2 separate regions of the Homo sapiens genome follow, and region 1 is linked to region 2. Evidence: fine-mapped expression QTL. A gene starts in region 2. The other region holds a variant in brackets. All regions are shown on one strand. Distances are between the middles of the regions.

The links. PIP is the estimated chance that this variant, and not a neighbour inherited with it, causes the effect.
Region 1: its variant is the best candidate, but not a certain one, in a credible set for the expression of FRMD8 in whole blood (TOPMed, PIP 0.52).

The regions. Positions count from the first base shown.
Region 1 is chr11:65,320,414-65,324,794 of GRCh38, reverse strand. It overlaps CDC42EP2 (CDC42 effector protein 2), which reads right to left. Exons shown (of 2, transcript NM_006779.4): 2 at 2,378-4,251. The coding sequence starts at 3,896. The coding sequence ends at 3,264. LOC124902691 (a long non-coding RNA gene) reads right to left here and starts at 1,050. Exons shown (of 2, transcript XR_007062728.1): 1 at 707-1,050. The variant C/G (reference allele first, on the strand shown) is at 2,474.
Region 2 is chr11:65,384,565-65,388,945 of GRCh38, reverse strand. It overlaps FRMD8 (FERM domain containing 8), which reads right to left and starts at 2,309. Exons shown (of 11, transcript NM_031904.5): 1 at 2,185-2,309; 2 at 1,825-1,909. The coding sequence starts at 1,909. RefSeq lists a silencer at 1,923-2,502 and an enhancer at 2,005-2,593.

The sequences.
Region 1 (4,381 bases), 64 kb after region 2:
CAAAAATTGGCCTACAAAAATTAGCTGGGCACCGGGTGCGGTGGCTCACACCTGTAATCCCAGCACTTTGGGAGGCCAAGGCAGGAGGATCACAACATGGCCAAGATGGTGAAACCCCGTCTCTACTAAAATACAAAAAATTAACTGGGCGTGGTGGTGCATGCCTGTAGTCTCAACTACTCGGGAGGCTGAGGCAGGGGAATCGCTTGAACCCGGGAGGCGGAGATTGCAGTGAGCTCAGATCGTGCCACTGCACTCCAGCCTGGCACCAGAGCAAGACTCCATCTCAAAACAAAAACAAAAATAATTAGCCGGGCATGGTGGCAGGCACCTGTAATCCCAGCTACTCGGGAGGCTGAGGCAGGAGAATCGCTTGAACCTGGGAGGCGGAGGTTGTAGTGAGCTGAGATCGTGCCACTGCACTCTAGCCTGGGCGACAGAGCAAGACTCCGTCTCGAAATAAATAAATAAATAAATAAAATGTCCAGAAATAATAAAAAAATGCATTCTCACACACACACACACACACACACACACACACACACACACACACACACTGTGTAATGTTTGTGAAAGGCTGGGGGAGTGGTGGGTGTCTGGGATTCCAAGGTCACACAGGTAGAAAAGAACTGGCTGAGGGTGGAAGAAGGGGCCACCGGGCCCCACCTTAGGCCACTCCCCTCCTCTCTGTCTCCACCATCCTCACCTGGGTCCAGTCCTCCTGCTCATGCCTGCCATGGCTACCTCCATCCCCGACCTGGCGTGGGTGATGTCGTTCCTCAGGTCTAGATCTGACCACCTATCTCTTCTGCTTTCACGTCCTTCAGCAGCACCCCATCGCCTCAGCGTCAGCCTGGCCAGCGAAACTCTTCCCTGCTGCCGCCAGCCTGTGTTCCAGCTTCACAGTCCCGCCCTTCCCGAGCCCCAGTTCTTTCCTTCATCACACACTGCAACCATTTGTAACACCTTTCCTGGACGGGCATGGTGGCTCATGCCTGTAATACCAGCACTTTGGGAGGCTGAGGCGGGCGGATCAACTGGGGTCAGAAGTTCGAGACCAGCCTGGCCAACATGGTGAAACCCCGTCTCTACTAAAAATACACAAAATTAGCTGGGAGCAGTGGCAGGCATCTGCAATCCCAGCTACTCGAGAGGCTGAGGCAGAAGAATTGCTTGAATCTGGGAAGCGGAGGTTGCAGTGAGCCGAGATTGTGCCACTGCACTCTAGCCCAGGTGACAGAGTGAGACTCTGTCACACACAAAAAAACAAACAAATAGACAACAAAACAAAAAATTAGCCAGGCATGGTGGCGTGCACCTGTAATCCAAGCTACCTGGAAGGCTGAGGCAGGAGAGTAGCTTGAACCCGGGAGGCAGAGTTTAGTTAGCTGAGACTGTGCCATTGCACTCCGGCCTGAGCAACAGAGTGAGACTCCGTCTCAACAGAAAAAAACAAAACAAAACAAAACAACAACAACAACAACAAAAAACCCTTCCCTGTGGCTAGTATAAATGTTATCCCTAGTTTTCTCAATAACCCTGTGAGGTAGCTATCAGTGGCTCTTTTTTTTTTTTTTTTTTTTTTGAGATAGAGTCTCACTCTGTCACCAAGGCTGGAGTGGAGTAGCGCAATCTCGGCTCACCGCAACCTCCAGCTTCCGGGTTCAAGTGATTCTCCTGCCTCAGCCTCCCTAGTAGCTAGGATTACAGGCACGTGCCACCATGCCCAGCTAATTTTTGTATTTTTAGTAGAGACGGGGTTTCACCATGTTGGCCAGGATGGTCTCGATCTCCTGACCTCATGATCCACCCACCTTGGCCTCCCAAAGTGCTGGGGTTACAGGTGTGAGCCACCATGCCTGGCCTGCTCCATTTTAGAGATGGGGAAACTGAGTCTCAGGCCAGGTGCAACTCGGAGGTCCACGCTCTTTTGCTGTGTGGTGTCTGCTCTGTCTTCACTCTGGTTCCTCAGTGCCTGTGCTTACATATGAGTTATCTGGCTGGTAGCTCCGATTTGGCTCAGAATCACATCTGATCACATTAATGAGCCCTGACACTCCCTGACCTCCCTGCTAGGCATTCCTGATCACGTTGTTTTCTTCGTAGCCTTTACCACTGCTGGAAATCATCTCTTATTTGTTTACCAATTTAATATCCCCCTTCCAACTAGAATTTAAACTCTTAGAGAGCAGGGATGGCGTCTGCCTTGTATCCCCAGCACCCGGAGCCGTGCCTTGTATACTGGAGATGCTCAGTAAACAGCCGTGGATGGAATGAATCTTGAAGCAGCACTGTTAGACCCTCCCAGCTCCAAGCATCCCTCCTGCATGCTCCCTCGGTGCTCTTAAGCTGGAGAAGCTGTTGGTCCCTTGCACACTTTGTGGTTATTCTTTTATTCTTGGGTGTCCCCCACCAGACCCCAGCTGACTGGGCAGGGATTGGCCCCAGGCTTGGCACAGTGCCAAGCCCACCC[C/G]AGTGCTCAGCCACCTCTTGCCAAACATCTGAATCAATGTCACAGCAACACTTGGTTTGCTCCTGTTGCATTCTCATGACAGGCTCAGCGTCAGGTACGACGTTCTTGAGGGCAAGGCCTGTCCTCCACAAAGCCCTCTGGGGCTGGGGTCTCCAGAGGCAAGCCCTCAGCTCTGGGAGACTGTCTGCCTCCGGGAGGAAACCTGGGGCAAAGGGACAGGGAGCTCCGCCACCAGCAGCAGCATGTTTTATTGCAACCAGAATCCCCGGTCACGTGGGGAAGGGATTGGAGCTAGGGATGAGGCAGGACACATCTGGTCCCTGACAGGACACTCCCCGTCCAGGATGCAAAGCCAAAGGCCCGGAACAGCCTGCTCAGTGGCTGAGCCCTGTGGCCAGCTGTGCCCTGTCTCTTCCCCTGCCCCCAGTCAGGGCATCCAACGGGGCAGAGGCAGAAGGGACGTGAAAAGGGGGGTCGGTTTCAGCAAAGCCTTCACCCAGGGACCTGAAGGAAGAAGGAGTATTGTGATGGGGTCCAGGTGCCCCAAGATGCTCAGGGCGCCTGGGCTGACTTCAGGATGTGTCCATGTGGTTATCAGAGGAAAGCGATGGGGCCTGCCCTGCCCACGTGGAGAGGGAGGGAGAGGGGAAACACGGCTCAGAAGGAGAATCACTGGCCAGCGACCATACAGGTGGGATCTTGGGACCCTGACTCCGCCGCCAGGGCCGGGTCCACACCCCACCTCCTGGCTGGGCCCCACCTGGGACCCCAGCCTAGGCAGCCTCGTGTCCTATGTGGGGATCTGCATGCTGTCCAGGTCCTGATCCATGATCTGCAGGACATCATCCAGGATGGAAGGCCCCAGGTCCACGTGCAGGGACAGCAGGGAGCTGGCATTGGACAGGAAGGGCTCCTCGGCCCCTGACTCCGGGGTCAGTCCACTGTTGGGGGAGCCAGTCTCTGGAATCCTCCAGATGTCCACACTCCCTCCCTCCTGTGGGGAAGGCTGAGGGGTCTCCAGGTGCAGGCGAGGGGGCTTGGGTGGAGCCTGGGCTGTGGGCAGGGTGAGAGCCTGGGGTCCACCGATAACCGGGAGGGAGATGGCGTTCTTGAGCAGAGGGGATGGGCCGTCCGGGAGCTCCCGCCCACACACGGTGGCGGTGCGGGTGAACTGGAAGGGGAGGTCGAAGGTGCCATCTTCTTCAGGCCCCTCCACCATGGTCCCCGGCAGGAGGTGGAACTTGCCCTGCAGGAAGGAGATGTCGCCAAACATGTCACTGCCGCCGCCACTGCCAATATGAATGGTGTGGCGGAAGTCCCCCAGCGGTGGGCTGATCATGTCCGAGGACAGCAGGTCCCGAAGCTTCTCCTTCTTGCCCTTGCGACTGCCACGCTTCAGATAGATGGGCACCTTGGTGGACATGGTGACCTCACCACCAGGCCTGGCTGTGAGGCTACGGGCCGCCTGCTGAGACCACACCTCCTCTCCAACCCTCAGCCAGAGGAAACACTCGTTCCACGGGGTGGTTTGCAGGTGCCAGAGCTCGCCAACGGGCTTCTGGCTACAGTGTGGGGGCACGAACAAAGTTGGCCCAAGGAATTAAAAAAGATTAGAGATCAATGAAGTCAGTGGGCTGAGATAACAAAAATCACGTTCTCCCCAAAGGACGGCAAACTCTTCTGAAGAATTGAAGCCAGAAAGGTAGGAACTGTGTGGGCAGCAGTGCACTTTGGTCTTGTCACCGAGGGTTACTTGTCCCCGGTCCAGGGCTGAGGAGCTGAAACACAAAGGGTGCACACCTGTCAGAGACAGCGGGACCAAGGTCAGATGCAAACATCTTTTTTATTTTTAAGATGGAGTCTCACTGTGTCACCCAGGCTGGAGTGCAGTGGCGCAATCTCAGCTCA
Region 2 (4,381 bases):
CCACAGCATAGAGAGGCTGAAACCATCCTGAGGCTATGGCAGTTAGTCTGGCTGGCTGGCAGGAGCGAGAGCTGGTAACCCGCTGCTGTCCTTAGGCAAGTCTCTCTCTGACTGAGGCTAAGATGCGAAGAGATAATTCTTTAGGTCACCCAGGTTAAAGCAAGTTCCAGGTCTCAGCTTCCTTGGGACTCTTTAAGTCTGAGGACTCTTTAAGCCTCAGGAGTCAATACGAAGCAGGCTAGGGAAGAACAGCCCAAATAGCTGAGAGTTCCCTTGTGACAACTTGTGGGTTCCAGAGCCAAATGGAGACACCTGGAAGAGCAACCAGATTCAAATCCCCATCCCTGAGACTGCAGGCATGGTGAAGGAACACTGGAGTTTGGGGCCGACATACTCGGGTTCCCATCCTTGCCTGGTCGCTGGCCAACTTCAGGGAGTCAATTTAAGTTGTCAGTTGCCTCATCTGTAAAAGTAGAGCTAATACTCCTCCCTCCAAGAGTGTGTGGAAGGGAAGGGCACGGTTTCTCATCTACACAAGAGAAGGTGCTCCTCGGACCCCCAGTCTGTTATGCTCCAGCAGCTACTCTCAGAGATCACAAAATCACTTCGAGGAGGCTCAGGTTCAGATCTACTTCTCAGGCAAGAACTGAGGCACCAGAAGCTGCAGTATGTAATCACCTGGAGAGCTTCCACAGCCTGCCTGGGACTTAACCTCCCTAGGGCCCAGTTTCCTCCCTATCAAATGAAGATCATGATATGATCCCTGTTTTTTTTTTTTTTTGAGACGGAGTTTCACCCTCGTTGCCCAGGCTGGAGTGCAATGGTGCGAGCTCAGCTCACCGCAACCTCCGCCTCTCAGGTTCAAGTCATTCTCCTGCCTCAGCCTCCTGAGTAGCTGGGATTACAGGCATGTGCCACCACGCCCAGCTAATTTGCATTTTTAGTAGAGACAGGGGTTTCTCCATGTTGGTCAGGCTGCTCTTGGAATTCTCAACTTCAAGTGATCCACCCGCCTCGGCCTCCCAAAGTGCTGGGATTACAGGTGTGAGCTACTACGCCCAGCCTGATCCCTGCTTTCAAAAGGCTGTTTGGGAGAAAGAAAGGACACAGCCGGGTGTGGTGGCTCACGCCTGTAATCCCAGCACTTTGAGAGGCTGAGGCAGGCAGATCACGAGGTCAGGAGATCGAGACCATCCTGGCTAACACGATGAAACCCCGTCTCTACTAAAAATGCAAAAAATTAGCCAGGCGTGGTGGCGGGCGCCTGTAGTCCTAGCTACTCGGGAGGCTGAGGCAGGAGAATGGCGTGAACCCCGAAGGCGGGGCTTGCAGTGAGCTGAGATCGCACCACTGCACTCCAGCCTGGGCGACAGAGGGAGACTCTGTCAAAGAAAGAAAGAAAGGAAAGAAAGAAAAAAAGAAATGACACAAAGAAAGTGAACGTGTCACTTTCTTTTTTGTCTATGTTGCCCAGGCTGGTCTCGAACTCCTGGGCACATGTGGTCTGCCCACCTTGGCCTCCCAAAGTTCTGGGATTACAAGCATGAACCACATCAGCCTTCACTTTTCATTCATATAATCTCATTTGAATTTCACAGCTATGTTAAACAAGCTCATTTTACAAATGAGAGCGAGGACCCAACCTGGCCAGTAAACTAGTGACAGAGCCTCTGACTTCTGTGAGTTTTCCACATCTGAATGTACCTTATTATTTCTTAGTCGATACATAAATTATCTTTAATGAAAAAGAAGACAAGCCAGAGCTACTTCTCCAGGGCTGGGGTCCCAGGAGGGTGTGGAAGAGGAGATGCGGGTGGGACCCACCTCGGGCTCCCACGGAGGACACGCTGCTTCGGTGGGATCGCTCAGCGGGGCCGGGCTGCCCGGCACTGCCTTCTGTCCCGTCCATCTGCAAAGGCAAAGAGAAACAGCAGTTACCGGGAGCCAGGGATGGGGGGCTGGAGGTCTCCTCAAGCTCTCGGTGAGTACGGTAAGGGATCCCAGGCTGGGTCCGCAAGGTTGAGCGGCGCTGCCTGGAGGGGCCAAGAGTGCAGACCGGGCGCTGGTGGGAGGGGTGCGGGTTGCTACGGTCAAGAACCGGGGGTCGACCTGGATGCCCAGGCAGGGCAAGGCGCACGCCCAGCCGGGGACGGAGGCCCGGGCCAGACGTCGCTGTGCTCTCACCTCGCAGGGTCGCAGAGCCCGCCACCTGAGAGGCAAGGCTCCTGCCTGGAATCCTGCCCCGCCGCCAAGCCCGCCACCGCCCGCACTCGGGCTCCCGCTAAGGACGCAGCTGACCGGGAAGCGACGCGGAAGCCACGGCGGGAGGAAGCGCGGCGCCCGAGGCCCCGCCCCCTTCGACCCGGGGGAGCCAATGGGAGCCCAGGGCCGCCCCGCGCGGCCCGCGCATGCCCGGACGCCAGCCTCGCGTGTCTCATCACGCCCGTGGGGTGGCCGCGTCACGTACCAGCCCCGCCACCACCAGAGTGACCCAGAGCGAGTTTCCCTTCACAAAGGCCCCGACTGTTGGCCTGTAAGAGGGTTTGGCGAAGATTCGAGAATCAGGCTAGGGGCGTTGGCCTGCCCACGCTGGGTCTTCGGGCTAGTTCCCTGCCTGTGAAATGGACACTTCCTGGCACGTGCCAGGGATCCATGCGGCGCTGGCAGCGGCCTGTACCGTGGCGCTCTCGGCAGTGGTCAGGAGAATGAGTCCTGGCCCAGACTCATCCTGGACAAGTCCCTTCTCCTCTGGGCCTCAGTTTTCCTCATCTGTAAAATGAGGTGGTTGAACTGAATGACCCCCAAGGACTATCCCTACTCTCTAAATGATTATTAATATATGTCTATGTCGGCCGGGCGCGGTGGCTCACGCCTGTAATCCCAGCACTTTGGGAGGCCGAGGCGGGCGGATCACGAGGTCAGGAGATCCAGACCATCCTGGCTAACACGATGAAACCCCGTCTCTACTAAAAATACAAAAAATTAGCCGGGCGAGGTGGCGGGCGCCTGTAGTCCCAGCTACGCGGGAAGGCTGAGGCAGGAGAATGGTGTGAACCCCAGGGGGCGGAGCCTGCAGTGAGCCGAGATCACACCACTGCACTCTAGCCTGGGCGACGGCGAGACTCCGTCTGAAAAAAAAAAAAAATTTATATATATATGTCTAAATCAGAAAACCAGGACAGACACTCTGTTTTTCCAGGGAGCAGTGACATGAGCCCTTACTATCTTACACAACAGCCTGGGAGACCTTGAGGTTTTCCCAGGCTGGGAGGAGACTTGGGGCCCCAAAGAGGCAGGTGTGAAACCACCTACCCTCAGGGCCATGTCACTGACATGTCCTGGTAATGCAACATGTGTGCATCTGAGATGTGGAACTCAGGGAGAAAAATAAGTCCATGGGGCACCTTCTGGGGCCAGAGGAACCAGAAGTTGTCCCAAGTGACAGCAGTGGGCTTGGTGATCAGGAACAGAGGGCAGTGGGTTCACTTTGCCCTGGTTCCCTGGGATTGGAAAGCAGCTCTAGCTCCTGACCCAGTCCAGCCTTCTTTGGTATGTGAACCAGCTCTGCCTGCCCTCCTATGATCCACACTGCCCCACAGCTGAGCCCATGACATCACATTTGCCTTGCCAATGTGACTTAAGGACTTGAGGAAGCTCAGATGTGGGCTGCAGGGAAGGGTGTCCAGTGGGGGCAGGCATCTCCTTCCTGGTTCTCAGCTCTGGGACCCTCAGACCAGGACACACTGTATCTCCATGGCCTCTTGACCCAGCTGGAGTGAAGCAGGAGCAGAAGAGTTCAGTGTTGTTTTGAATGCTTACTGGATGCGGGGCTTGTGCTAGGTCAGGGGATGGAGACTGAGGGGAGACGTGGCCCTGCCCTCAGAAAGTGTCTGTTGTGGTTTAATTGGTGAGTTAAGGAAGAGGGGAAAGAGAAAGAAGCCCAGGAGAACAGCACATTTAAAACCACAGCACTTTGGGAGGCCGAGGCAGGAGGATCGCCTGAGGCCAGGAGTTCAAGACCAGCCTGGGGAACATAGTGAGACGCCATCTGTAAAAAACCCAAAAATTAGCCAGGTGTGGTGGCACACATCTGTGGTCCTAGCCATTCAGGAGCCTGAGGTGGGAGGATCGCTGGAGCCCAGGAGTGTGAGCTCACAGTGAGCTCTGATAGCGCCATCCTGCCACTGTATTCCAGCCTGGACAACAGTGAGACTCTGTCTCCAAAAAAATAAATAAAACCACAGAAGATGACAGCATTGCCTTAAGAACTATGAAATGCTACAGGCAGGAAAAGTCTCTGCTCACTTGCTGTGTGTGGGGCACTGGGCCAGGCCCTTTCCCCTGTTTCCTGTGTCATTCTCATGCGTCCTGAGAGTGGAAA